Linked DNA regions of Homo sapiens: region 1 is linked to region 2. The links come from fine-mapping of genetic effects on gene expression. Tissue or cell type: esophagus mucosa. Region 2 holds a variant in brackets; the other region holds the start of a gene. All regions are shown on one strand. Distances are between the middles of the regions.

Evidence for each region. PIP is the estimated chance that this variant, and not a neighbour inherited with it, causes the effect.
Region 1: it holds the start of PC, and the variant in region 2 is fine-mapped to the expression of PC in esophagus mucosa (GTEx, PIP 0.93).

The regions. Positions count from the first base shown.
Region 1 is chr11:66,957,321-66,959,933 of GRCh38, reverse strand. It overlaps PC (pyruvate carboxylase), which reads left to right and starts at 1,551. Exons shown (of 23, transcript NM_001040716.2): 1 at 1,551-1,612. RefSeq lists silencers at 1,114-1,473, 1,794-1,893 and an enhancer at 1,544-1,593.
Region 2 is chr11:66,904,949-66,907,701 of GRCh38, reverse strand. The region is part of intron 3 of PC (pyruvate carboxylase); the gene reads left to right. Among named protein-coding and RNA genes, the nearest start is that of MIR3163, 28 kb to the left of the region's middle. RefSeq lists an enhancer at 1,921-2,568. The variant C/T (reference allele first, on the strand shown) is at 1,466.

The DNA of each region.
Region 1 (2,613 bases), 52 kb before region 2:
TATATATATATATATATATTAATCTGTCTGCTCTCCTTTGAAGGCAGGATTTTGGTTTGTTTGGTCACTCCCTTATCCCCTGGTTGGCACAGACCCCAGTTTACGCAGCGGTGAATGAAAGTAAAAATCTCGGGACCCCCCCCCAGCGCCCCAATTCATGCGAAAGTGAAGATTAAGCCTTGAAGCTGAGTCACTGCAACACCCTCTTCCAAAAGAATAGCTGTTACTAGCATTAGGCATCAGCCATATCCACACGGAAAGGTAAAAACCTCAGGCATTTGGGAAGGGCTGCCCCCACAGATCATTCACAAGTAAATTCTTGCTGGCCTCCCATAAACAAGGACAGGTCAATTGTAGCTTCAGGTCTACAATCTAAGTCTAGCTCCTAAAAATTCCACAATAAGAATGTCATTACAAGCTTATTTTCCCAGGTGCAGAACAAAGTCAAAACTACCTACTCAGAGACATCTGCATAACTGACTCTTCCTTTACTCTCTTTTTCTCTTCAGACATTCATCTCATCTTACGTAGATTTACCGGGCATTAGCTAAAGTCCCATAGGAATGTAACTATTGTCCTAATCGCCTACTTGCCCTTCTTCCTACATGCCTTCCCCTCATTCCCCCTTTAAGGAAATGCATAAATACTAAACCTCCCGAAAACCTCTTCGGAAAAACAACCACGGATGTGTCTGTGGTTCGTGTTTTTCCCGAGCACGCCCTCAAACTGGATTAATAAGCCTCGATGACAGAGACTTATGCCTCAGTCACTTGTTCCACTTGTCAAAGCTTTCCTCTTTGACAAGTGTCTTGGGTCTTGTCAAGTGTCTTGTGTCTCAAACAAGGCTTCCAAACCCCCTAGGTCCTGAGTAGCTTCGCTCTGCAGATGACAAAACCGAGACTCAGAGGTTAAGTTGCTTGCCCAAGGTCACACAGACGTACTGTAGACCCCCATCATCATCTACGCAGCTGTTAAAGGACATAGTCATGTAACCCGTGTGGCACAAGCGCCTTCTCCTTCCTCCTGCCCTTCGCTAACGTTAGCTTTTCCTGCGACCTCTTCTCCGCTAGCCAGCGCGTATCTGCGTCTAGCCGGGATGCCTGAGCCCCAGTGCGAACTGTTGTGCTTGCAGCTTCGGGAGACACGTGCTACTCGGGTGAATGAATCGAACGTCCCCACCCCCGCCGACAGCCAATAACTGCGAGCCACAGCCCGGCCACTTCCGCCTATTGCGGGCGTCGGCTAGGGTCCGGCGGCCCACGTGAGGCTCCGGAGACAAGGGAGTAGGCGGTGGTGCGCCAGGGGCGGGCTCTCCCAGCCTCGCCACTTATCCAGGCGCTCGCCGGGGACGGGAGGGGCGGGGCTGACGTGGGGCGCCAAGGCTTAAACGTGACGGACAGGCGGGCACAGGGAGGAGTCCAGAGCCTAGGGGCGAGGAGTGACGGAGAACACTGCCCAATAACGGGAGGGGTTGGGCTGTCTGGGCCAATAGGAAGTCCGTAAGGCGGGGCCGGGACTGCAGCAAGTTCGGTTGCACGGAGACCGCAGCTGTTCTCTGTCAGTGGAGGCAGCAGCGGTAGAGGCGGCGGCGAGGACTGGCGACGGCGAGGAGGTGAGTGTCCGCCGCGCTCCGCACGGTCCTCTTCCCGCGGCGGGTCGGAGCGGGTGGACGTGCGCCGGCACCGCTGCGAGGGACGCTTATGTAAGGGTCGCGCGCGCAAAGGCGGCGCGGGCTCCGCGAGTGACGGCTGGAGGAGACAGCGACGGGCTGTGCGCGGTGCGCGACGCGACGCAGCGGACGGCGCCCCTCCCCCTCGCGCGGGGGCTCGGCCGGCTGGACCCGCCCCCGGACCCGCCCCCGGCTGCAGCCCCCGAGCGCCCCTCCGCAGCGTCCGCCTGCGGGCTGCCTCATTCTTGCTCTCGGGCCCATTTTGCAGATGGAGAAACTGACTAAAGCGCCTCGCGCGAGGTCCCTGAGGGTTCGAACCCAAGTCTGTCAGGATCGGGAGCCCAAGTTGTCCCCATCGTACTGGATGTGGCTCAGCTCTGCAGGAAGCCGCGGCGTGTAAGGCGAGGGCTTTCCTTGTTCCTTGCTCTCGCACTCCGCCTCCCGTAGGATCCTCTACTTTGTTTCAGACGGGGAAGCTCCAGGCGCCCAGACGCAGTGATTCGCCCAAGGCCGCTCATTCAGGAGGTGGGGCTGGGCTCAGCCCCTTATTTCTCCAGCTTTTAGTAGTTTACAAAGCGCATCAGAGTCGGAAGCCAAGTCCCTAGGTCCCTGGCAACTTTGAGATTCTTTTGTTTTCTTTTCTTTTTTAGACAGGGTCTTGCTGTCACCCACCCAGGCTGGAGTGCAGTGGCGCGATCTCGGCTCACTGCAGTCTCGACCTCCCGGGCTCAAGCGACCCTCCTGCCACAGTCCCCCAGTGCTGGGACTACAGGCGGGCGCCACCACGCCTAGCTAATTTTTGTATTTTTTGGTAGAGACGAGGTTCCGTCATGTTGCCCAGGCTGGTCTCGAACTCCTACGCTCAAGCGAGCGGCCTGCCCTGGCTTCCCAAAGTGCTGAGATTACAGGCGTGCCTCGTCTGAAATTCTAAAAAATCAGATTGT
Region 2 (2,753 bases):
CAGAGGGTAGAAGGATGGGAACAGTCCTTAGAGAACAGGAATCTAGGGGAGGGTTGGACTAGATCATTTCTCAAGAGCTGTGGGGACTGTTCTGGTCAGGCATGGGCAAGCTGAGGGGCAGGAGGTAGGCAAACCCTACTTGACCTGAGAACAGATTTGTTGTTGTTTTGTTTTTGTTTTTGAGTCTCGCTTTGTCATCCAGGCTGGAGTGCGGTGGTATGATCTCGGCTCACTGCAACCCCTGCCTCCCGGGTTCAAGCGATTCTTCTGCCTCAGCCTCCCGAGTAGCTGGGATTACACGTGTGTGCCACCACACCCGGCTAATTTTGTATTTTTCGTAGAGACGGGGTTTCACCATGCTGGCCAGGATGGTCTTGAACTCCTGACCTCAGGTGATCTGCCCGCCTCGGCCTCCCAAAGTGCTGGGATTACAGGCGTGAACCACTGTTCCTGGCCGAGAACAGGTTTTGCCTGAGACCTTGGACAGAAGACCTTGGCCATGGATCCAAGAGCTCTGGGCCAGAACACCCTTGCATGATGGTGACAGTTGAGGGAAAGGCCACATGGTTCCTTGTGTAAATGGCATGGCTGCCAGTGGTCATGGGGAGGCCCTGCTCATAGTTCAGCACCAGCCGGCCCTTCGTGTGCTGTGCTCCAGCTCCCCAGCCGGCTCAGTCCTTCACAAAATGCCCTGGAGTTACAGAACAGAAAGGCCCGGCTTTCCTTTAGGAATCTGGGAAATAGGAGGGCTGAGGTCATGCTCTGTTCAACATGTGAGACCTCCCAGACAGCAGTGCAGGAAAAACATGTTACTACCCGTATTTTGGGAGACCAGACCTCTGGCGTTTGAGTAGGACTCACTGCTCAGATCTAAGGGGAGAGAACATCTCCCATTTTGAAGAAAACCTTTTCCTCAGTTTAGGAGGAGGAGAAACTGATCAGGTTCCAAATGGCCTCTTGTTCTTTAACTGCAAACGGGCCAGGCTCCCTGCCAGGTCATGGGATAACAATCCAAGGAGAGGGGAGAAATGCAGTGTGCATGTGTGTGTACATGGGCATGCTCGTAGGGGGAAAGACTGGGGGGATGGAGGTGACGTGGACATCTGTGTATGCTTCAGCTCTATTTCCCTCTGCTTAGTCCCAAACTGCTCGGGATTAGCAATTGTTAAGAACATGCCTTTCTCCCCACCCCGGGAGTTCTAGGCCAGGGGTGGAGGGATTGAGCACCGTGGCTTTGTTCTCTGTCAGGTGGTGCCTTTCTCTGTGACACCGAGGGAGACCTGCCATCAGGAGGGAGTCTGAGGCCAGGAGACAGTACTTACCGATCAGGATGGATCTTTGGTCTTGTTTGTGTGCTTGGTTTCCTGGCTGGAATGAAATGTCAGTTTCATGAGGACAGGGACCTGTTCTCTCCTGCACAACTTTCTCTCTGATGACCGACAGTGCCTGGCATGTTGTAAAGGCT[C/T]GTTCAGAAGTGACTGAATGAATGAATGCATACTTTTTAGGCGGGGCTGCATATCGTTCCCTTAAACCTCCTGATTCATCTTCCGTTGCTTCCGTGTCAGCTTCTCACTGGGTCATTGTCTGCTTTGGTGCTGCCCTTCCCCACAACTTTGAGAGTTCATGTTACTGCAGGCTCCCCGCCCGCCCACCTCTGCCTGAAACTTCTCTTTTGGGCTCCTGTGCTGTGACATACTAGCAGTATTTGTTTGCCCCTCTTAAGACCATCCCTTCAGTTTCATTCCTGCCTCAGTTTCTCCTCCTCACATTTCTGCTGTTCCACCTCTGCTCCTGTGCTCTTCTCAGGAAAGCAGGTGAGTGGTGATGCCCTGGGCTAAGCTCGCCAGGGCCTGGGCAGCCCAGGCACCCGTGGTTCGGGTGGGGAGGGAGCATGCTGGTGGCCGGAGCTGGGCTTGTGGGCAGCAGCCCTCCCCACCTTGCTGAGGCCAAGCTCTTTCTCATGGCTTTGGCTGTCACTTCTATGCTGATCACCCCCAAATCATTGTGTCTATATTTCTCTATTGGTGCTTCTGACCTTCCAAAATCTGATCCCACCCTGGCAGTCAGACCTTATTTGATGTCAAGGATTATTAATTTGTAGCATGTATTACATCCCTAATATGGACCAGTTCACATGCATTCTCATATTTCATCCTCCCAATGAACATACAAAGTCAAATAATTATTCTTATTTTACAGAGTCTCAGACAACTTAGTTCCTCTAGGTAACCAGATTAATTAGCATTAGGGGGTTGTGATCAGGATTTGAACTGGCTCCACTGGCCCCTGACCCTGAACAGAGTCAGCTTGGAGTCCGCCCTTGGAGACGAGGACAGCCGGTCCTGTTTCTCCCTCTCACCCCAGTGCACTCACACAGCAGGCGTTGGCACCCTTGCTAAGGGCCAGGCCAAGCGTCTCCTCTGTGAGCCTTCACTTAGCTCTCCTAAGCTGCTCGGCCTGCCTCCTCTCCCTTTTCTCTAACAGCAGTGCCTTTGCACACACTATGTGTTTGTTATATGTTGGCTGTGCCAGTCTTGCCTCGTCAGCAGATAGTGATTTTCTTAAAGGCAGAGGCCATGTTTTATATGATCCTCCATCCCTCAAGTGTGTGTTACAGGCAGTTTGTTGCTCAGTAAACACTTGATACCTCTGATGAGGTGAAATCTAATCACAGTCCTTTGCATATGTATTGTGGTTTACAGTTTCTGAAACCGAAGAGCCAATTTGAAGTTTCCTGTAAAACAGATCCCTTA